Linked DNA regions of Homo sapiens: regions 1 and 3 are each linked to region 2. Evidence: fine-mapped expression QTL. A gene starts in region 2. Each other region holds a variant in brackets. All regions are shown on one strand. Distances are between the middles of the regions. Region 1 overlaps CHUK (component of inhibitor of nuclear factor kappa B kinase complex). Region 2 holds the start of CWF19L1 (CWF19 like cell cycle control factor 1). Region 3 overlaps ERLIN1 (ER lipid raft associated 1).

Region 1 (8,159 bases), 45 kb before region 2:
AAACAATTAAAGAAAGAAAAAAAAAGACAAATGAAAAAATTTCCATTCCCATTAAGCATGCCCAAGTTCTCATCCATTTCTTACCAGGTAAATGGCTGCAGATGATGCAAAAAAGGCCTATATCCAGCAATACATTCAAATACCATGGTCCCAAAGCTCCAATAATCAACAGTGGCTGTGTAAGGCTTATTCTCAAAGAGCTCTGGGGCCTTCAAAAGAGAAAATGCTTTAAACACCAACACTGTATGGGAAAAGCTACTTTATTTTTGACCTACTATATTCATGATCTTCAGAAATAAGAGAATCCTATACACACTTAAATTCAAAGAAACAAAACAGGTCTCACCAGATACTGCAGTGTTCCCACAAAAGATGTACACAGACTTCCTTGATCAACATCTTTGGCATATCCCAGATCAATTATTTTATGTATTATCTGCAAAATAATAAGACAGATTAAGTATTAAATGGTAGAGAAATTTAAAAAGGAAAGACAACAATATCCTTACGAGGCTGTAGACAGGGTAGTGGTGAGGACCTTGGGCTCTGTAATAACACAAAAATATTTCAAGTCTGAGTGCCACCACTTAACTAGGCATGTGATCTACCAAGTTATTTAACCTCTCTCAGTAATCTAATTGGATGACTAACAGTCCCTGCTTCACAGAATTGTTATTAGGATCCAATGAAATAACGAAAGTAAAGAAGGTAACACAGTGCTTGGTACATGGTAAAAATTGAATACAGGTGGGCTATTAATTTTTATTTTACTATATTCAAAATAAGCTCAATCCATTAAACTGGAAAGTAAAGGCAAGGGTGACTTCCAAACTTGAAGAAGCATCATACCTCCTTATAGTAGATTAAATGTGAGTAAATACTTAGATCTAACTTCAGGAATGTCCTGAAGTCTTTGGATTAAAAAAAAAAAAAGCAGAGATATTTGGTGCCAAGCATACGTGAAAGGTTCCTAAGAGAAGAGGCATCACCAAGGTTCCAACACCTCCAAGAGGCCAACAACTATTTTCACTAACTAAAGAGACGGCACACACAACTCAACACAAGGTTCAGACTCTTGGCCTTTAAGTCTTTATTGGAATGAAATTTGGATGCTGGAAACAAGAAAACTGCTTAAGTTACCAATGAAATGAACATTTTAAGAGTCAATTCACAATTTCTGGTTCTTCTCCAGATGACTCATTTAAATTGGGGGAAGGAAAATAAGTTTTAAAAATATATATACTTTCTTTTTTTTCTTAAAGTGGACCCAGGATGTGCATGTATGTGTTTTGGATGTGCTTCATAAGAATAAAATAATAAGTGTTAACATATTATGTATTCACAGCCTGTATCTTTGCTAGATACTATGATGGAAAAACAGACTTGAACAAGACAGGTGAAGTCTAGGAGCTGGGTTAAGTATGAAAAATGAAAAAAAAGAAAAAGAAAAAAAAAGCAGGTGCTGTTCCTTCTCTGATGGAACCACTGTTTAGCAGAAGGGACAAAAAAACTAAACACAAAACTACAGTTCAGTGTGGTGAGGTCTGAAATGGAAAAAGTAAGACTGTTATGGGCATACAGCAAAGACACCAAAGCTCAAGGACTAACTATATCAGAGAGACTATATTCAATAGGCATGAAACATTACTTCAGGTTTCACCTACCTTTCCACCAACATCCTGAAGAACTATGTTTTCAGGTTTTAGATCTCGATGTATAATTTTGTTTTCATGCAAATATCGAATCCCAGACCCTAAATAAAGTTTAAAATATACTTTAAAGTAACAGAAATCATTGAGTTAAAAGAAAAATTCACCTCACATTTTGTACAAATCTACTCTGATGCTCAAGTTTATATGGATCATCGTAACTACACAACTAATACTACAGTGTCCAGGTTTTCTTCACAGAAAAAAAAGTAACATTAAACAAATACTACAAAATTATACTATATGTTCATTTAACTCATTAGAATTAACACCAAATAGAAATGCAACAAGCAATTGGGAAAATCCCTGAAACTCTTATAAGCCTCTTTCTCCCACCTAAATCACTCATTTCAATTGGACTTTAGCCCTCATGACCTTGGAAAAGAGGCAAAACCAAAATCTATGGGGAAACAAATTTTTGGTTTTTGAGGTTCCTCCAAAAGGTTAGGTACTGGTTATTTTAGGAATTTTTCTGGAGTCATTCTGATTAAGCAGAGATTTTTCACCCTGAAGAGTTGACTTGGCTGGGTGCGGTGGCTCACGCTTGTAATCCCAGCACTTTGGGAGGCCGAGGCGGGCAGATCACGAGGTCAGGAGTTTGAGACCAGCCTGGCCAACACAGTGAAACCCCGTCTCTGTTAAAAATACAAAAATTAGCCAGGTGTGATGGCGGGCACCTGTAATCCCAGCTACTCGGGAGGCTGAGGCAGGAGAATCGCTTGAACCTGGGAGGCAGAGGTTACAGTAAGCTGAGATCGCACCACTGCACTCCAGCCTGGGCAACAGAGCTAGACTCCGTCTCAAAACAAACAAACAAAAAAGAGTTGACTTGAGGACCCATCCCTCAAGGAGATGTAATTCCACTGTAAACAAAATTACTATGTCAATGGTAGGGGGGGAGAGAAATTGAGTAAGGTCATTTCACATGATTTTTTTGTCAGCTATTGGAACATCTATTAGACAAAAAAAGGACTCTTAGCCACAAATAAATAATAAAATATCCTAGTTTCTTTTTGTGTGTGTGTGACAAAGTCTCACTCTGTTGTCCAAGCTGGAGTGCAGTGGTGCAATCTCGGCTCACTGCAACCTCTATCTCCTGGGTTCAAGCGATTCTCCTGCCTCAGCCTCCCGAGTAGCTGGGACTACAGGCATGCGGCATTGTGCCCAGCTAATTTTTGTATTTTTAGTAGAGATGGGGTTTCACTATGTTGGCCAGGCTGGTCTTGAACTCCTGACCTTGTGATCCGCCTACCTTGGCCTCCCAAAGTGCTGGGATTACAGGCGTGAGCCACCGCACCTAGCCAAAATATCCTAGTTTTAATTTAGCATCAATAGTAATAGATTTTTATAACTTCTTATAGATGTTGAAATTCTATAGACTTTGTATAGTGTATCAACAATTCTCCTGAATTCCCAAAAAGATCTTTTATGGGCCAAAGGGACATTACATTACAATGGTATTTTAATACTGATACGTACCTATATCACTTAGTAAAGAAAGTATCTGGCTTTCTTTAAGTCCACAACAATTTTCTGGTTTGTTGAGCAGCTAAAAAAAGAAAGAAATCTAAAAATCTGTTCTGCAAATTGCTGGGCTGCAATAGTGACCACACATTAATTACTATACTCTAAAAGAATATTCAAATGAGAAAATAAGTCATAATAAAATACAAGGGAATAAAATTACCAAATCCATACTGAGGGCATGTAAATTTCATGATAAGGCTCATAAAAGTAAAAAGAGGCAAAAAGCATTTGAAACTGGAAAAGGCTGACAAATCTCATGGATATATATAAAAATGGTCATATGGGCACATTTAAAATTAGGTAGAAAAAAAAGATTGCAATACAGAAAACAACTTTTTATAAGCACCTTAACCACTGAAATTTTCATCTAACACCATTGCTATAGTCCCATCAAACAGCAACAACAAAAATGCATTTTCTAAATCAGGAGTCAACATTTTCTGTAAGGAACCATATGGTAAATACTTTAGGTTTTGCAAGTCACATAGTCTCTGTTAAAACTACTCACTTCTGCAGCCATAAGAAAGCAGCCATAGACAATGTGTAAAGAAATGAATGTGGCTGTGTTCCAATAAAACTTTATTTACAAAACAGGAAGCAGACCATAGTTTTTCCGATTCTTATTCTAGTTTATTATATTTAACATGATTCAAACATTGCTAAAGTTTGTGATTTACTCTCTCTCATCTCAAAACATCCACACTACCTTTCGGAGATCTCCTCCAGAACAGTATTCCATTGCTAGAAGAGGCACATCATGAATCAAAATATTCAATTCTTCAGGAACATCACAGGCCTTTACAACATTGGCATGGTTCAACCTAATAAGAAAGAAAAACATTACAATAAAAAAAATTATTTCCAATAAAAAGGGACTGGATTTGAAATGCTACTTAATTGTGGGTGGATGAACAGAGGGGGAAAGATCAGTATTATTTATAATATTCTAATTTCTGATTTGTATAATTAAAAATTAGTAATTTTTTAAAAGAAAACACACATAAAAATACCATCACTATTACTACTATTACATTTCTAAGTGCCAAGCAGTAAACATTTTAAATATATTAACTCAGTTACTTGTCACAATAATCCTATTATAGGTAGATTTATTAATACTTTCACCACACAGGAGAAAATTGAAGCACAAATTGGCTAAGTAACAAGATCACACAGTGAGTAAGTCAAATCTGGCGTTCTAGGCTGGGTGTAGTTGTAACTGTAATCCCAACAATTTGGGAGGCTGAGGTGGGAGGATTGCTTGAGGCCAGGAGTTCGAGATCAGCATGGGTAACACAGTGAGACCTCATCTCTACAAAAAATTAAAAATTAGCCGGGTGTGGTGGCGCATGCCTATAGTCCCAGCTACTCCAGAGGCTGAGGTGGGAGGACTGCTTGAGCCCAGGAGTTCAAGTCAAGCCTGGGTAACATAGCAAGACCACATCTCTTTTAAAAAAAAAAAGAAAAAAAGAAAAAGAAGCAAACAGAATTTCCAT[G/A]TACATGTAGGACCTGATAATTTATACTATTAAGCTTTCCTGGTGATTCTGCCACATAACCAAGTTTGAGAATCAAAATGGAATTAAGCACAGATATTAGAGTCAGAAAGTATTTATTTCAAATCCACACTTTACCAACCACCAGCTATGTGATTCTATAAGCTTCAACTTCCTCATTTGCAAAATAATACCTAAATATAAGATTGCTGTGATAACTGGAAGAATGATCTGTAAAGTACTTAGCACACTACCTGTGGAAGTTTTAAAATATGTCTACTTCTCTTTTTAAGAGCTTAACTCTCCTCCCCTTGAATGTAGGCTGTACTTAGTGACTCACTGTAACAAACAGAATGTGGTGGAAAAGGATGGAGTCTCACTTCCAAGTAAAGATCATAAAAGATACGTCGGTTTTCATCTTGCTCGCTCGTTCACTCTCTCTCTCTCTCTCTCTCTCTCAGATCACTCACTCTTTCTGAGGAAAAGATCTTTCTGGGGAAAGCTAGCTTCCATGTCATGAAAACATTCAAGCTTCCCCATGAAGAGGCCCACATGGCGAAGAACTGATGCTTTTGGCCAACATTCATATAAGTGAGCATGGAAGCAGATACTCCAGCCCCAGTCAAGCCTTTGGATTACTGCAGCTCCGACCAATATCCTGAGATGTCTCAGGAAAGACTCTAAGCTAGAATCACCCAGCTAAGCCACTCCCAAATTCCTAAGTCACAGAAACTATAAGATACTAAATGTTTGCTATTTTAAGCCACTAAATGTTGGGGTAATTTATTTTTTATTATTTATTTATTTATTTAGAGACGGAGTCGCCCAGGCTGGAGTGCAGTGGTATGATCTCAGCTTACCGCAACCTCCGCCTCCCGGGTTCAAGCAATTCTCCTCCCTCGGCCTCCCAAGTAGCTGGGATTACAGGCACCCGCCACCACACCTGGCTAATTTTTGTATTTTTAGTAGAGATGGGGTTTTGCCATGTTGACCGGGCTGGTCTCAAACTCCTGACCTCAGGTAATCCATCCGCCTTGGCCTCCCAAAGTGCTGGGATTATAGGTGTGAGCCACCACGCCCGGCCCTAGCTGACTTTTGTTAACTGAAATGAAATAGTTTTTTGATTGTGGTAAAACACACATAGCATAAAATTTACCACCTTAACCATTTTTAAGTGTACAGTTTAGTGGCATCAAGATGCTTTCCTTTTTTTTCAGACAGGGTCTTGCTCTTGTCACCCAGGCTGGAGTACAGTGGTATGATCTCAGCTCACTGTAGCCTTGACCTCCTGGGCTCAAGCAATCTTCCCACCTCAGCCTCCCAAGTAACTGGGACTACGGGCATGCACCACCACACATAGCTAGTTTTTATATTTTTTGTAGAGATGGGGTTTTGCCATGTTGCCCAGGCTGGTCTCGAACTCCTGAGCTCAAGCAATCCACCCACCTCAGCCTCTCAAAGTGTTGGAATTACAGTGTGAGCCAACATGCCCAGCCTGGCATCAAATACTTTCACAATGTTTTGCTACTATCACTATACTGCACAAAACTGTTTAATTCTGCAAAGCTGAAACTCCGCACCTATTAAAAATTATTCTCTATTTGCTGGTCCCTTCACCCTCTGGCAAACACCATTCTACTTTCTTTCACTGTGAGTTTGACTACTCTAGGTACCACACATAAGTGGAATGACACAGTATTTGTCTTTTTGTGACTGGCTTATTTCATTTAGCATAATGTCCACAAGATTCATCCATGCTGTGGCATGTGTCAGAGTTTCATTCCTTTTTAAGGCTGCATGATATTCCGTTTCATGAATATACCACATTTTGTTTATACATGTCTCTGCTGGTAGATACTGGGTTGCTTTTACCTTTCAGCTATTGTGAATAATAATGTTATGAATATGAGTGTACAAATTACTCTTTAAGTCCCTGCTTTCAATTCATTTTTGTATATACCCAGAAATGGAATTGCTGGATCATATGGTAATTCTATTTTTAATTTTTTAGGAATCACCGTACTGTTTTCCGTAACAGTTGCACAATTTTACATTCCCACCAACAGTGTGTAAGTGTCCTAGCTGATTTTAACTAAACCTTCTTAATCTTAATGTGATATTATTATTTGAAATAGAATATATTTAATGAGAGAAAAAAATATATGTTCCCAAAAAGATCCTGAGAAGAGTGGATTCCTGGCCTCTTTCCCCATGATGACATCTGGTTGGGCTGTAGAACCAGGGAAATGTAAGTCAAGGAATACACTTACTTCTTCATAATCTGGATTTCATGGCACCATCGTTCTCTGTTTTTGGTACTTAGCTCTAGGCGACAAGACTTAATTGCTATTTTGAGATCAAGTTCCTGCCAAAATAGAAAATCAACAGAAAAAAAAAATTAGGTTCTTGTGAAGATTTATTTGCTACCAAAGAAATAACTTAAGACAACAAAACTTTTTAGCTTTACTAATTAAATATATTTATCCACAGCTCTCTTGAGGCAATGCTTTTTAAAAAGATAAACCATGAGACTATTACACCAATGCTTTAAAACTGACCTTCAAACACACAACAGCATACAAGGGAAAAGTGCCTGAAACTGATTTTATAACAGGTCTTTTCAGAACTCTCTCTCATATATAATGTTAGAAAAAAAAAGATCCTGTCTCCTCAGCAAACCCCTTTCAGAGCTTAATCAAGACAACTAATATGTGCCCCAGCTTCTAGCATAACTAAAATGAAGAAGGTAATTCAGGGCTTCCTGGACTCCAAACAGCAAGAGAAAGTTTTAATATAACCAAGCCTAAAGCAAAAAACTCCAATCCTAATGTATGCATTTCAAATGACATGAAGAAAAAAAATCCTACCAATGAGTGTACTTCTGCTTCCATAGCTACATAATGAACCTAACATCTCTTGCCTGTGACTAGTAATTTAGCCAATTCTGACTGAAATTAAACCCATTCTGATGCATATTACAGGAAATAGCCAGACCCCATCATATTCTGGCAACATTAATAATGCAGCTCAGAAATAGCAGTCAGGGCTAAACAGGCTACACTATGTTTCTGATATCACAAGGAGAGTTCAAAAGAATTTCCAACATATGTAATCTCTGACACAAACCAGAGTTGTAATAAAGGCTGTGTATGAATACAGAGAGAAGAGCCCAGGGGCCAGGACAGAAAAAATATATTATAGGTGGGGAAGCAAGACATAGCTTGGATAGGGTAGTGTGAATTGGAGGGTGAGAGGAAAAAAGAAGCTAGAGATAAGATGATACCTGGTGCATAGAGAAGAAGGAAACTAGGATAGACTGCATGCTAGCCTACCCACAGTTCTCACTCCCTTCAATCTTCCTTTTGTTATGAGCAGGTGACCAGTTATATCTATGTCCCATGCAGGCCTTTACCACCATGGAAATGAGAAT
Region 2 (8,183 bases):
CTCTATCCCACTGAATAAAGATAGAAATCTATGACCCAACAAGGCCAGCTCCTTTTCACTCACAATTAAACCATCACAAGCCTTGTTGATTTTACTTCCTTAATAAACCCTGAATCCCTAAACTATTCCTCTGTCATCACTCTACCTAATCCCAGCTGTTCTCTACTTTGGCTCTGATTTGTTCTCCACATTGCAGACAGAACTGCTTTCCAAAATGAAAATTTGATCATGCCAAAGCGTTCTTAAGCATTTCAATAACCTTTTTAGGTTAAAGACAAGAATACAGTTACGTGCCACATAACAATGTTTCGGTCAACAAGGGACCACATATGTAATGGTGGTCCCATAAGATTATAATGGAACTAAAAAATTCCTATCGCCTAGTGATGTCTAGCCATTTGTAACATCATAGTGCAATATATTACTCATTTGTTTGTGGTAATGCTGGTATAAACCTACTGGGCTGGTGGTTATAAAAAGTGTAGCACATACAGTTATGTACAGTATACAATATTTGATAATGATAATAAACAACTATGTTACTGGTTTATGTATAATATTTAGCATGCTATGGCCAGGTGCGGTGGCTTACGCCTGTAATCCCAGCACTTTGGGAGGCCAAGGCGAGCGGATCACAAGGTCAGGAGCTCGAGACCATCCTGGTTAACACAGTGAAACCTCATCTCTACTAAAAATACAAAAAATTAGCCGGGCGTGGTGGCGGGCGCCTGTAGTCCCAGCTACTCAGGAGGCTGAGGCGGGAGAATAGCATGAACCCACGAGGCAGAGCTTGCAGTGAGCTGAGATCGCGGCACTGCACTCCAGCCTGGGCAACAGAGCAAGACTCCATCTCAAAAAAAAAAAAATATATTCAGTATGGTATGCTCTTTACTGTTTAGAGTACACTCCTACGTATTCAAAAAAAAAAAAAAAAAGTTGACTGTAAAAAAGCCTCAGGCAGGTCCTTCAGGAAGTATTCCAGAGGGCACTGTTATCATAGGAGATGACAGCTTCATGCATGTTATTACTACTGAAGCCCTTCCAGTGGGACAAGATATGGAGGTGAACAGCAGTGATACTGATGATCCTGACCCTGTGTAGGCCTAGACTCGTGTGTGTGTCTTAGTTTGCAACAAAACAAGTTTAAAGCCAGGCACAGTGGCTCACGTCTGTAATCCCAGCACTTTGGGAGGCTGAGGCAGGAGGGTAACTTGAGCCCAGGAGTTCAAGACCAGCCTGGGTAACATAGCAAAACCCCCTCTCTACAAAAAATACAGAAATTAGCCAGGTGTGGTAGCTTCCGCCTGTAGTCCCAGCTACTCAGGAGGCTGAAGTGGGAGAATCACTTGAGCCCAGGAGGTTGAGGTTGCAGTGAGCCGTGATTGCACAATTGCACTCCAGCCTGGGCGACAGTGAGACCCTGTCTCCAAAAAAAAAAAAAGTTTAAAAGGTAAAAAGAAAAAAAAAGTAATAGAAAAAAGCTTGTAGAATAAGGATATAAAGAAAATATTTTTGTACAGCTGTACAATGTGTTTTATGTCTTAGCTGTGTTATAACAAGAGTCAAAAAGTGTAAAAAAACTTAAAGTTTATAAAGTAAAAGTTACAGTAAACTAAGGTTTACTGTTGAAAATAATATTTTAATAAATTTAATATAGGTGAAGTGTACAGTATTCATAAAGTCTACAATACTGTAAAGTAATACATTCACTCACCTCTTACTAACTCACTCAGAGAAACTTTCAGTTCTGCAAACTCCATTCATGATAAGTGTCCTACACAGGTTGTGCCCTTTTTTTTTTTCCTGTATACAGTATTTTCTTTTTTTCTTTTTCTTTTTTTTTTTTTTTGAGACAGTCTCGCTCTGTCGCCCAGGCTGGAGTGCAGTGGTGCGATCTCGGCTCACTGCAACCTCTGCCTCCCAGGCTCAAGCCATTCTCCTGCCTCAACCTCTTGAGTAGCTGGGATTACAGGCGCCCGCTACCACACCCGGCTAATTTTTGTATGTTTAGTAGACACAGGGTTTCACCATGTTGGCCAGGCTGGTCTTGAACTTCTGACCTCAGGTGATCCACCCACCTCGGCCTCCCAAAGTGTTGGGATTACAGGCATAAGCCACCACACCCGGCCAGGTGTTTTCACTGTACCCTTTCTATATTTAAATACAAAAATGCTTACCATTGTGTTACAATTGCCTACAGTATTCAGTACAGTAACTTGACGTACAGCTATACCATTTAGCCTAGGTGTACAGGAAGCCATACCATCTAGGTCTCTGGAAGTACACTCAAAGATGTTCGCACAATGACGAAATCGCCTACCAACTCATTTCTCAGAACATAACCCTGCTGTTAAGCAATGGATTACTCTTATTTCCCAAGGCTCAATCCTAACATTCTCGGGAAGCCTTCTTGACTCCTATCATTAAGCCAAATACCCCTCTTATGCACTCTCCCAGATTCACGAATATTTTCTTCCCAAAAGTTACCACTATTGCAATTTTTTTTTTTTTTTTTTTGAGACAGGGTTTCAATCTGTCACCCAGCCTGGAGATCAGCAGCACGATCACAGCTCACTGCAGCATCGACCTCCCCAGGCTCAGGTGGTCCACCTGCTTCAGCCTCCCAATTAGCTGGGACCACCACGCCCGGCTAATTTTTTTTTTTTTCTGTATTTTTTGTAGAAACGGGGCCTTGCTATATTGCCCAGGCTGGTCTTGAATTCCTGGACTCAAGTGATTCTCTTGCCTTGGCCTCCGGAGTCGCTGGGATTATAGGCGTGAGCCACTGCGCCTGGCCCTATCACTATGGTAACTTTACATTTATCTGAATTCCTTTTTTTTTAGACGGAGTCTCACTCTGTTACCTAGGCTGGAGTGCAGAGGTGCAGTGTCGGCTCACTGTGCAACCTCCGCCTCCGGGTTCAAGCGATTCTCCTGCCTCAGCCTCCCAAGTAGCTGGGATTACAGGCACGCGCCACCACGCCTGGCTAATTTTTTTTTTTTGTATTAGTAGAGACGGGGTGTCACCACGTTGGCCAGGCTGGTCTCGAACTCCTGACCGCAAGTGATCCGCCCGCCTCAGCCTCCCAAAGTGCTAGGATTACAGGCGTGAGCCACCGCGCCCGGCCATTATTTGTATTGTTTTTTGTTTGTTTTGTTTTGTTTTGTTTTGTTTTGAGAGTCTCGTTCTGTCGCCCAGGCTGGAGTGCAGTGGCGCGATCTCGGCTCACAGCAACCTCCGCCTCCCGGGTTCAAGCGATTCTCCTGCCTCAGCCACCGCGCCCGGCCCATTATCTGGATTCTTTAGTACCTGTTCCTCTAGACTCTACGCTCCATTAAAGCAGGAACTCCATCTGTTGCAACACCTAGCACAGCGTCCGGCACACTGCAGTTCTTCAATAAATACTTGCTGCATGAAGCCCTCTCTTCACCACCACCCCCACCCCTCCTCCTCGCAAAAAAAAAAAAAAAAAAAAAATGCCCCAGGGAAGGGTCCCTATCTACTCTGTCCACCACTGCCCAGGGCCCATCAGTGGGCCCAATGGCTATTTGGCGAGTAAATAAATGGGGTCAGGAGAAACGAAGGGGAAAGGATGTGTCAGAGGCCAGGACTGCCCCCTAAGATGGAGGAGGCCTAACTCTGGGAGCTTCCGCCTCTCCGAACGAGCGTCGCCAAGAGAAACCCCCTCAGAAGCGAAAAGGGCCAGGAAAAGAGGTCAGCCCCGGCCAGGCAAAGACATCACCTAAGCTCCCCAGCAGCCCCGTGTCTCTCCGCCTTTTCCTTCTCCCTTCCCGTCATGGGAAAGACTCCCGCCCGTGTCGTCACCTACACACACGAAAGAGACACAGGGAGAGAGGCTTCCATTCACGGTCACTCACAGGCGCAGCGGTTTCTGTGCCATCTGTCCGAATAGTATGGGTTGCGACTGCCACCTAAAATTGGGAATGCGAATCCGCGCTCCCCGGAAAAATGCGACCGCGCAACAATCAGACGTCAGCGCCCTCCAGCCAATAACGGTTCACTTACTTACGGAGACCGCCGAGGGACAGAAGCCTCTCTCAGGTGTTTGCGCCTCAAGGAAGAATCAAGAGGGAAAGGGAGGAACGAAGGGAGAAAGAGAAAGTGACCGAAAGGATTCCAACTATGATTTTTTAAATTAAATTTCAGAGCACTTGAAGCGAATGAATGGCTAGGAAGTACAGAGCACAATGTCGGGTTCTAACCTAACCTAACCTAACCTAACCTAACCTAACCATATCGGTCTAGTGGGCAAGACAGACCCCCTCTATCCACGTTTTTTGTAAGTTTTTAACCTATCAAAAAGTTAAGAGGCCGGGCGTGGACGCTCACGCCTATAATCCCAGCACTTTGGAAGGCTGAGGCGGGCGGATCACTTGAGGTCGGGCGTTCAAGACCAGCCTGGGCAACATGGTGAAACCCCGTCTCTTCTAAAAATACAAAAATTAGCCGGGCATGGTGGAGAATTGCTTCAACCAGGGAGGCGGGGGTTGCAGTGAGTCAAGATCGCGCCATTGCACTCCAGCCTGGACAACAAGAGCGAAACTCCGTCTCAAATTAAAAAAAAAAAAGTTAAAAGAATAATGGCTATTACCTTGATTCAGTAAGTCTCAGCATGTTGGCAAATTTGCTTGTGTTCTCTTTCTCTCAAAGTGCCCAAGCCCTTCCATTCTCACTCAATCATTTGAAAGTAAAGTACAGGCCGGGCGCAGTGGCTCACGCCTGTAATCCCAGCACTTTGGGAGATCCAGACCATCCTGGCTAACACGGTGAAACCCCCTCTCTACTAAAAATACAAAAAATTAGCCGGGCGTGGTGGCACGCACCTGCAGTCCCAGTTACTCGGGAGGCTGAGGCAGGGGAATCGCTTGAACCCAGGAGGAGGAAGTTGCAGTGAGCCGAGATCGCGCCACTTCACTCCAGCCTGGGCGACAGAGCGAGACTCCGTGTCAAAAAATAAAATAAAATAAAGTGCGGACAACAGGAATACATCTCCATTTATCTCCTAAGATTAGGATATCCTCCTACATAACCGTAATACTATTAACACAGCTAAGAAAATTAACATTAATTATTCAATAATATTACCTAATATACATCCATATTTAAAGTTCTCCATATTTCCCTACAAACTGATTTTATATTTGGGGCTTGTTTTGATTCAGATGCAATCAAGTTTCACACTTGCATTTGGTTCTGTCTCTATTTTAATCTACAAAAGCCCTCCTACCTATTTGGTTTTAGTTTTTGTAATATTGACTTTTTTGAAGGGTTCAGGCCAAGTGGTAGGAAACAAGTGTGTAAGGAAATGGAAACAAGAGAGAGTTCCTGACGACTGCGGGGAAAGGAAGACTCATCAAGGGCATCTAAATAATTCAAAATTAATAAAACATAAGATTAAAGAAGAACTACAGGCCAGGCACAGTGGCTCATGCCTGTAATCCCAGCACTTTGGGAGGCTGAGGCGGGAGGTTCACTTGAGAACAGGAGTTCAAGGCCAACCTGGGCAACATAGCCAGACCTCGTCTCTACTACAAATTTAAAAAGAAAAAAAAAAAAGTTAGCTGGGCATGGTGGCCGTATGCCTGTACTCCCAGGTACTCCAGAGGCTGAGGTGGGGAGATCACTTGAGCCCAGGAGATGGAGGCTTCAGCGAGCTATTACCTTGCCACTGCACTCCAGCCTGGGTGACACAGCAAGCCCTGTCTCAATAACCAAACAAAACTACAAAGTTCTGGCTTTTCCCACAGCCTACAAGCCTTCTTTTTTGTTTGTTTCTTGCCTCATAACTGGTGGCTCTGCTTTGCTGGCACATAAGCATGCATTTTTTCCTACTCTTTGGATAATACAGCACTGCCCAGGAGTAGCACTCAAGACTGAATCTTGAAGAAGAGTAGAAGTTTGCCAAACATGAGCAGGTAATAATTCCCAGAAGAGGATACAAAAGTAAGACATAAAAACTCATCGTATTGAAAAATCAAAAGACTCCACGAAAAAGACTGTTAGAAATAATAAACGAATTCAGTAAAAGTTTCAGGATACCAAATCAACATACAAAAATCAGTAGCATTTATATGCACCAACAGTAAACAATCTGAAAAAGAAATCAAAAAAGCAATCTCATTTACAACAGCTACAAAGAATATAAACTACGTAGGAATCAATTTAACTAAAGAAATGAAAGATCTATACAAGGAAAACTATACAATACTGATGAAAGAGGACACACACACAAAAAGGAAAGATATTCCACGCTTATGGATTAGAAGAATTAGGCGGGCAGATCACGAGGTCAGGAGATCGAGACCTTCCTGGCTAACACGGTGAAACCCCGTCTCTCCTAAAAATACAAAAAAATTAGCCAGGCGTGGTAGCGGGCGCCTGTAGTCCCAGGTACTCGGAAGGCTGAGGCAGCAGAATGGCATGAACCCGCGAGGCAGAGCTTGCAGTGAGCGGAGATCCAGCCACTGCACTCCAGCCTCTAGCCTGGGCAACAGAGCGAGACTCCGTCTCAAAAAAAAAAAAAAGAAAGAAAGAAAAAAGACAACACTACCTAAAGCAATTTACAGATTCAGTCCAATCCCCATCAAAATACAAATGGCATTCTCTAGATAGAGCAAGGATCCCCAACCCCCGGGCTATGGACCAGTACCCATCAGAAACCAGGACGCACAGCAGGAGGCGAGCGGTGGGCAAGTGAGAATAACCGCCTGAGCTCACTTCCTATCAGATTAGTGGTGGCATCAGATTCTTACAGAGGCTGGAACCCTATTGTGAACTGCACATGCGAGGGTTCTACGGCGCTGCGTACCTTACAAGAATCTGATGCCTGATGATCTGAGGTGGAACAGTTTCATCCCCAAACCATCCCCCCATCCCTACTTTCAGCTCTCTTTTTCTAATGTAAATGTCATGTACGAGCGTTTGTTTTTTTTGTTTTGTTTTGTTTTGTTTTTGTTTTTGTTTGAGACTGAGTCTCGCTCTGTCGCCCAGGCTGCAGTGCAGTGGCGCGATCTACGCTCACTGCAAGCTCCGCCTCCCGGGTTCACGCCATTCTCCTGCCTCAGCCTCCAGAGTAGCTGGGACTACAGGCACCCGCCACCATGCCTGGCTAATTTTGTTTTTGTATTTTTAGTAGAGACGAGTTTTCACCGTGTTAGCCAGGATGGTCTCGATTTCCTTGACCTCGTGATCCGCCCGCCTCGGCATCCCAAAGTGCTGGGATTACAGACGTGAGCCACCGCGCCCGGCCACAATAGTTTTATTTGACGTCAGGACTGTTTTGTAGACCGAGGTGTGATAGATGTGGCACGCACCAGCCACGGTTTCCACCGTCCCCAGAGCGTGGAGAGGCAGCGCCACTGCTCTCAAGGTTAATGACAACTCAATAAAGCACTGCTTTTATTTTTTGCAGTCTTCAATTTGAGAAAGGCCAGAAATAATGTTTTCAATAAATATGGTTCATACCATTAAAAAAAAAAATCCCCCCGCGTCCACGGAAAAATTGTCTTCCATAAAAGCGGTCCCTGGTGCCAAAAAGATTAGGGACTGCTGCTCTACAGAAATAGAAATAGAAAAAACAATCCTAAAATCTATATGGAACCACAAAAGACCCCAAAGAGCCAAAGCAATCCTGAGCAAAAAGCACAAAGCTGAAGGCATCATACTGCCCAACCTCAAAATCTACTACAAAGCTATGGTAACCCAATCAGTATGGTACTGACATAAAAATAGACACATAGACCAATGGAACATATATAAATCCATGCATTTACAGCCAACTCATTTTATGTCAATACCAAAAGTACAAAGGTGCCAAGAACATTCAATGAGGAAAGGACAGTCTCTTCAATAAATGATTCTTGGAGAACTGGATAGCCCTATACTGAAGAATGAAACTCAACTCTATCTCTCACCATATACAAAAATCGCATCAAAATGGATAAAGACTTAAACCTAACACATGAAACTATGAAGCTACCAGAAGAAAATACTGGAGAAATGTTCCAAGATATTGATCTGGGCAAAAATTTTTTGTATAAGACTTCAAAAGCACAGGCAACAAAAGCAAAAATAGACTAATAGGATTATATCAAACTAAAAAGCTCTGCACAGCAAAGGAAACAATCAACAAAGTGAAGAGGCAACCCACAGAATGGAAGAA
Region 3 (8,183 bases), 97 kb before region 2:
AACAAGGTATCTATTCCTACCATTACAACACAGAAACAAAATATGAGCACTCTCTTCAACCCTAACGGCTTCAGGACTCTTTCCTCTATTAAATATTTAATTCAAGGTACTATTCATATAAAATTATAGCTCCTTAAGCTTCCAGCAATAGTTTTACAGCAAACTGCATCTTTAGCCACTGAAACTGCTCCTGAAATGTCCATACATAAAGAGAACACTAGTAAGAGTCTAGTGGGAATTAAGACACAAGAATAGGCAATATTACTAGAGTAAGAGTAAAGAAGATAAGACACATACTCCACCCCAGAGTGTATTGTCTCACATGTTTCCTCTAGACTGGAATATTAATATGCAGACAGCCCTAAACAGAAATATTGGGATCCCATGCATATTACTCACATTAACTCAAAATTTCTTCTTATGGCTTCTGGGATTTTGGGTTTTGTAACACGCACAGCCTAAAAAATAAAAGTGAAAAAGCCAAAGTATATTTGAAAGATAAATCTTCAAATTAAATCTTCTACAGAAAAGCCCCTCAAATGATACTAATCTAATAAACAACAGCTATAATATAGCGGCCTACTAACACGTTTGGGGATCCCACCAGAACATTTACTTTTCATGCCATCACACCAAGAATCAAAGACAAGCTGCTTCTTATTTCCTTACACAATGCCAGATTACAGGAAAAACCATCTACCCACTGAGGAAACAACTGCCTTATGAAAAAGGTTCTCACTTAAAAGATGTTTTACAAAGGTCGTTAGATACTTTTGCTTTCTTTTTCAACCCTGTAAACCAAAGAAGCCGGGAAGGCAAAGTTCCAAGACTGAAATTGTAAAGTCAGAAACAATTAGTCAAATACAAAAACAAACAAAAAAACCCAGGTTGGTGTATACAATTTAATACAGTGAGTAGTGAGTAAATTAATCTATCACTTCCAACCCCTGCAATCACTTGGTATTTGCTGTAAGTAAACAGCCCACTGGCTGAAGGAAAACAAATATCAATTAAAAGCTTATATTCTTTCTTCCTTAACTCTCACTTAGAACAAAGTCTGTCTTTGTAGAGGCTGTTTACCAGACACTTTGTTTCCCTAATCATAGTGTTCTTTGACACAATTAAGATTATCTACCTGGACAGTACTGTTTTTTGAAGGCTGACTTTTCTACATCAAGGACTTGATCTCTCAAAAGCTTTTGATTTTACTAAACATACGATACCCCGCCGCCCCACCTATACTGCAAACACACACAAAAAACACTTTGCTGGTCTGAAGAAGTTTTCCTTCTGAAAACTGGCTAACCTTTTAAGAATAACAAAGCCTTTAAGCACTTAGTCTTCTTTAAAGGCTTTTAAAACTTTTAAGCGATATAGCATTTCCTATATGAAATAGATGAGTCAAATTTGTAGGTAATTTTGAGGACAATCATAACTAAATATAAGGATTACAGTGGAATGGAATAAGCAGCTGAAGGCTGTGTGGAAAAAACTCACAACACACTGGCAGTGACACATGTGAGGCCTCACAACTCAGTGGAGACATGCAGAAGACAAATAAAAATTCAGGACCAGATTTTGTGAGATGTCAGATTTCACCATGTGACTAGCAGACATAAGATTACTTCCAATATGGATTAATATGATTCAAGGAAGCACTGTCATACTGCATTTAATTAAGAGACTGGCCACATATCTTTTTAGCCTTATTAAAAGAAGCGTAAAGTAGGACTTTTTTTTTTTTTTTTGAGATGGAGTTTTGCTCTTGTTACCCAGGCTGGAGTGCGGTGGTGCAATCTCAGTTCACTGCAACCTCCGCCTCCCAGGTTCAAGCGATTCTTCTGCCTCAGCCTCCTTAGTTGCTGGGATTACAGGCATGCGCCACCAAGCCCGACTAATTTTTGTATTGTTTTTTAGTAGAGACAGGGTTTCACTGTGTTGGTCAAGCTGGTCTCGAACTCCTGAACTCAGGTGATCCAACCACCTCGGCCTCCCAAAGTGCTGGGATTACAGGCGTGAGCCACCACACTCGGCCAGGACTGTCTTTTGAAGACTCCTATTTTGCTGAATGAGGCTGAAGAACATACTACATTGTGCTTGCCAATCTTGGGAAATCTCACAGATTTTCAAATATGTGAAAACATAAACACTTACTGTACAGATACCATGAGTAAGTTGCATCAAAAGAGATTTTAAAAGTAAAAGTGGGAAGTCCCACTCAGGCACCCCTCTCCCTCACAGGAGAGAGAGCTATTCTCCTTTCTGTTTCTTTTGCCTATTAAACCTCTGCTCTTAACCTCAAATAATAAAATAATGCCCCCATCCCACTCACATACATAGAGTGAATGGAGGAAAAAAATGGCTAATGAAAGGAATATATGTATTGAAACTGACCCCTGGGTTTTAAGCATATATTATATATCAAAAGCCAGTCTATAATATAGTCACTCCCTTAAATAACATAGGAAAAAAAAAATCAAAGATGACCATTTTCATCATTCTAATTTGCCAGAGTAGTTTTTCAAGAAGAAAAATGGTATATAAATATATGGAAAGGAAAAAAATATAATAGTGACTGTAAAAATAGTAACCCAAAAATTACTAGAAGGCAGTGAATTCAAGTTGTAGATATAAGATAAATCTACCAAGAATCAATCACATTCCTCAATGATTAAAAAAAAAAAAGACTACATATTGAACAGCATTAAAATTCATTAAATCCATTGGTATTAATTTAACTTAGGATATGAGTTTCTCCCCTAAATCAGAAATTCTAAAAACCAAAAAGGCTGATATGATAAAGTAAAGCCATAAACTATGTTTCTATTTTTAACTTATATTGGAGGATTGCATGAGGCCAGGAGTTTGAGACCAGCCTGGGCAACACGGCAAAGGCCCATCTCTACAAAAAATAAAAAAATTAGCCAGATGTGGGGGTGTGTACCTGTACTCCTAGCTACTTGGGAGGCTAAGGCAGGAGAATCACTTGAGCCCAGGAGTTCAAGGCTGCAGTGACCTATGATCATGCCACTGCACTCCAGCCTGGGCAACAGAGGGAGACCCTGTCTCAAAACAAAACAAAACAAAACAACATGTATATGACCACTTAGGTGCCTGATATAGCTTGAAAATATCGATAATGAAAACTCATCTGGAAGATTAAGCTGGCAGAAACAGCAAAGGCCATTATTTTTTAAAAGATGATGTCTCTTGCCAGATTTTAAAATAAAAAGTTGAATTATCACAACCATATGGTAATGTGTTAAAAATAACAAAGCTCAAAAACAGCCTTGAAATTCTTAAAATGCATTCCAACTATTGTAAAAAAAATTTTATAACAAGACAAAAGCAACCAAAGCAAAGGAGCTCTTCTCTTCTCAGGGTATGCTTAAGTTATTGCAAAATATAAAAATTATTTTAAAATTTTTTTAAACCCTAAAACAATGGAGATCTCTACCACTTTAAGAACGTATAACAAAACTACATTTTTTCAATCAATAACTTTTTATAAAAACAGCAAATAAATATAAGTAAATTCAAAAGATCCTTCTGGCTGTTGTGCAGAAAATGAAGTAGACAAAGGTAAAAGTGAAAGTGGGGAAAGAAGACAGGCGGCTACTGCTACTGCACATGTCAAGGTTAGAGTTGGTAGCTTGGCTTGAGATGACAGTGAAGATGGAGGTGTGGTCAGTTTTATTAATACATGGATTTTGGTGGTGGAATCTGCAGGACATAGGGACTGATTAGATGCTGAGGGTGAGGCGATTGTCAAAGATGCCTCCTACACTTCTAGATTGGCTTGAGGGGAAAGAGTTACCATTAACTGACAAGATGAAAAACACAGGAGAAAATTCGATTTGATGAGAAAAGACCAAGGACTCAATAACTAATGAAAGAGTAGGAATGGGAAGATCAATGGAACAGAACTAAGTTCAGAAAAAGACTCTAGTATATAATGGAATGCAGTATGTAACATAAAAACTATTTCAAAGAAGGGGGAAGATGGAAAAATAAACTATTCAGTAATTACCGCTGTTACCCAATTTGGGGTTGAGGGGATGGAGCTGAAGGCCTACCTTGCAACTGAGATCAAAATGGGTTGCAGATGAATTAAAAGATTTAAATCTAAGAATACAACTGTAAAAGCAGATACAATTTTTATAATTTCTAATTTTAATTGCTATACTTTTAAGGTGGTGAAAAGCTCTTAAAACATGCCAGCTCAGCAACACACCATAAAGACAAAATCACTGAAATTACTATGTAAAACATGAACACTTCAAAGTTATCAGCAAGGAAAAAACAAAGTTAAATGACAAAGAAAAAATTTGAAGAAAATGTTTCCTATAAATATAAAAAAGAGCTACAATAACTAACATATGAAAAAGTTTATTTTTAAAAACGAATTCTACCCCTCTCAAAGGGTAAGGTTCAAAAACAAGTTCTCTATATACAAATGCTATTTATTTATTTATTTATAGACAGGGTTTTGCTCTGTTGCCCAGACAAGAGTACAGCATGAACACAGTTCACTGCAGCCTCAACCTGCTGTGTTCAAGTCATCCTCCCACCTCAGCCTCCCAAGTAGCTGGGACTACAGGCACATGCCACCACACCTACCTAATTTTTTAAAAAAATTTTTTGTGGAGAAGGGGTCTCACTATGTTGTCCAAGCTGACCTCAAACTCCTGGGCTCAAGGGAGCTTTCCACCTCAGCCTCCTAAAGTGGTGGGATTACAGATGTGAGCCGCTATGCCCAGCCAAAAATAGCTTATTAAAATCAGTTAGAAAAACCATTAACTACAAAAATGAGCAAAACCAACAATTTATAAATGAAATAAAAACAGCTAATAACCTAGGGTATTCAACTTCAATAATTAACACAAAATAACAGACTAATTTTCTCCAAAAGGATTAAGAGAGAAAGGGAAAGCTTGCATCTG[C/A]TAATTATTTGGGTACAATCATGCAATCAAATGTGTAAGAACTACAGCTTACCAACACTGCTAATGAGGGGGGGAGCTGCTAAAATTTTTCTAAAAGGTGATTCGGTAGTATGTATCAATAAGCCCCCAAACAGGGCATACACTTTGATCATCAATCCCACTTCAAGAATTTATTGTAAGAGAGGGATTTAAAAAGATGTACAGAATATATAAGCTTGGTCATTCCAACATGCATACAGTAGTAAAAAATTTGAAACCATAGAGATTCACTAAATATAACCATTAAAAGTAATGATTTACCAAACCTATATTTTTGTTTTGGAAAGATGTTCATAGACAATGTTAGTGAAAAAAGCAAGTATGGTATGATTCTGCTTTAGTTGAGCATGTATGCATTTATATCTACAAACATTTGTTCATATACATTAAGAATAGTCGAGAAAGATATAACAAATGATGTTATCCCTGCATAATAAGATTACTGGTGAATTTCATTTTATTCTTCATCATTTTCCTAGTATCTAACTTTTTTCTACAACATAAATAACGTGTGTGTATAAAAATTCCAAATTTATACAGAACAAATCAGTAAGAAAGAAAACAATCCAACAGAAAAATGGGCAAAAGATATGAATAGGCAATCAGCAGAAGACAGTATAAATGACCAATAAATGTATCAAAAGATGTTCAACCTCATTAACAACCAAAGGAATGCAAATCAAAGGGAGATATAATTGCCCACCCATCCATATGGTAACAATCAGTATGTCTGATTGCTTCCAATGTTGGTGAGTTCATGGGTCACAATTATTTGCACATATTGCTGTTAAGAATGTACATTTGTACAGTCAGTTTGAAAGATAATTTGTACATACAAGAACATGTGTCATGAATGTTCATTACACTATTGTTTAATAGCAAAAAACTGGGAACAGAAAAATGGCTAAGTAATATAAGGCAAGGAATTCTAAACAACAGTTGAATGAGCTAGATCTCTGAGTAACACCCTGGGCAGAATCTAAGAGCTGACCTTCACATTCACTATCTTTAAAACTAAAAAGCTACTCCAGCTACAACTGACTTGAACAACTCAGAGGATTTTACAAAGTTACCTCTGGACATTTCAAACGACCCCTTAACTCTGGTGGCTCACCCTCAAGCGCCTGAGATAATGACATTGCATGAATGAGGCCATGAGGAAAACCCCACCTATCTTTCAGTCTTGTTTTTGAGAAGCACGAACACATACAATCACAGTGAGCGCACACTCTCAGTAGCAGTGGTGCTGAGTGTAAAGAATTGAGAGACATGTGATAAGCTTTAGTTGCAGTAATGTTCATCACAACAATCAACAATCAACTGGTCTCCTAGAGCTCCTGAGAAAGGACACTAGAGAAGCCTCAATATAACTTCTTAGGTCATCTGGATCCAGAGCAGTGGCTTTCGAATGTTACTGACAGTGGACACAGTAAGAAACACATTTTGCACTGACGTCCAATATAAACACCTACCCCGCCACACTGTGAAACACAAGTGTCACAGAATATTTAAACTTATTACATACCATTTCTTTTCCTATTCTATTCCATTTTATTTAAAATGCTGTTCATGACTCACTAAAGTTGATTTTACAACCCACAATCTGGAAAACACAGTGACCCAAAAAAAAGCAGGGGTAAAACCTCTCACCATTCTATTTCCCAACGTCACCATCACCACTACCACTAAATTCACCTGCTACCTTGTTTTTACTAGGGCTGTCCCTCCCACTTGAAATACCTTTCTCATTCTTCCCCCATTTAAATCCAATTAATTTTTCCAAACCTACTTAAAATCTCAACTCAATCACAGCCCTCTCCTAGACACACTGTCTTCCAATGTTCTCTTACTCTTACAGCAATAATCATTCAATAGATTCATCTGTCAATTAATACTTTGTGATAACTATTTTGTCCAGGATTGTTCAAATTTTACACTTGAACTCCCTTTTCATAATCTTACTGAGGGCAGGGATTATGCTTACACTGATTTATAACCATTACTGTATCTTAATGCTTCATACATGGCAGAAATATGAATTTTACTTCCTTGTAAGAGCCTCAGCTTATCAGTTCCCTCTAGGAGTTCACAAATGTCACCCATAGTAAGCTACAAGAGTATTTTATTTTGGCAGAGATCTAAAGTCAAATTGAGAAAGGTATTCTATAAATCACCATAGCATCTCAAATAATTGCTGAATAAAACAATCCAATGAAAGGAGGAACAAACTCAAAGCTCTCAAAATCCCCAGAGAACTTCCCTAGGAAAAGAACTTACCTGTATAGTGAGACCTGGGGCCATGAGGTTTAAGTCTTTCTGCAGAGCTTGCTTCAGGTTTTCATCTATTTGATCTGTTTTTTAAGCCAAGAACAACAGATCTCATGATAGTCAATTTTTTTTACATTGTATTCATAATGAAACAAAACTAATCATTATTAGACCTAAAGTTTCCACAGTACTATTCTTTTACAGAGCTTAAACTGCCTTTTCTTCCCTTTTGTGTGGGAAAAAAATTGCAAGGAATTATCTAATAAAGAAATTAAGGAACGAAGATGACAAGCAGATAGTCTGTTTATCCAATAAGTTTACCCACTAAATGTATTACTTAACTATGGATAAGCTTTTTTACTGGGTAACTTATTAGACTTATTTACTGGATAAACAACTACTGGGTAAAATATGTTGATCTAATAAATGGAGAATCTGGATCTCTAGTATCTTAATTCAGGGCTCTTACTCAATATGTATCCTCATTCTCAAAGAAAAACAAATTTCTATGTTCAGTAAATCTTTACTCAAATTCCCAAATAACTAAACTTCATTTCCATGGATCTCAGCCTCACTGTTATTTTGGATTTAAAGAGAGAGAGAGAGAGAGACAGAGAGAGAAGCTCATAGAAAAGTATTTGAAATATACACAGCATGAACACTTGGGCTTGTAACTATGCACTTTCTATTCACCTCAATGGTACTTTCGCTATTTAAATGACTGGTGGTGAGACAAAGCAGGACCCATCAGTTTCCTCACATGCCACTTCAGTGGTTGACAATCACCAAAGAGGACTCAATTGGTAGATTTTAAATTGATTACTCTTGCTTATTCCTTCATCTTAGAAATTCACTAAAAATTTCAGGAGGGAAAAGTGAGCTACCAACAGCAACAACTCATTCCCTGGTCAGAACTTCCACTATCATAAATGA

Evidence for each region.
Region 1: its variant is fine-mapped to the expression of CWF19L1 in whole blood (INTERVAL, PIP above 0.99).
Region 3: its variant is fine-mapped to the expression of CWF19L1 in whole blood (TOPMed, PIP above 0.99).

What each region holds. Positions count from the first base shown.
Region 1 is chr10:100,218,924-100,227,082 of GRCh38, forward strand. It overlaps CHUK (component of inhibitor of nuclear factor kappa B kinase complex), which reads right to left. Exons shown (of 21, transcript NM_001278.5): 2 at 7,000-7,094; 3 at 3,943-4,057; 4 at 3,189-3,258; 5 at 1,665-1,753; 6 at 347-436; 7 at 85-209. Among named protein-coding and RNA genes, the nearest start is that of CHUK, 6.6 kb to the right of the region's middle. The variant G/A (reference allele first, on the strand shown) is at 4,733.
Region 2 is chr10:100,263,692-100,271,874 of GRCh38, forward strand. CWF19L1 (CWF19 like cell cycle control factor 1) reads right to left here and starts at 3,947. Exons shown (of 14, transcript NM_018294.6): 1 at 3,880-3,947. The coding sequence starts at 3,902. RefSeq lists an enhancer at 1,678-1,927.
Region 3 is chr10:100,166,949-100,175,131 of GRCh38, forward strand. ERLIN1 (ER lipid raft associated 1) reads right to left here. Exons shown (of 11, transcript NM_006459.4): 6 at 7,260-7,333; 7 at 400-458. Among named protein-coding and RNA genes, the nearest start is that of ERLIN1, 15 kb to the right of the region's middle. The variant C/A (reference allele first, on the strand shown) is at 4,944.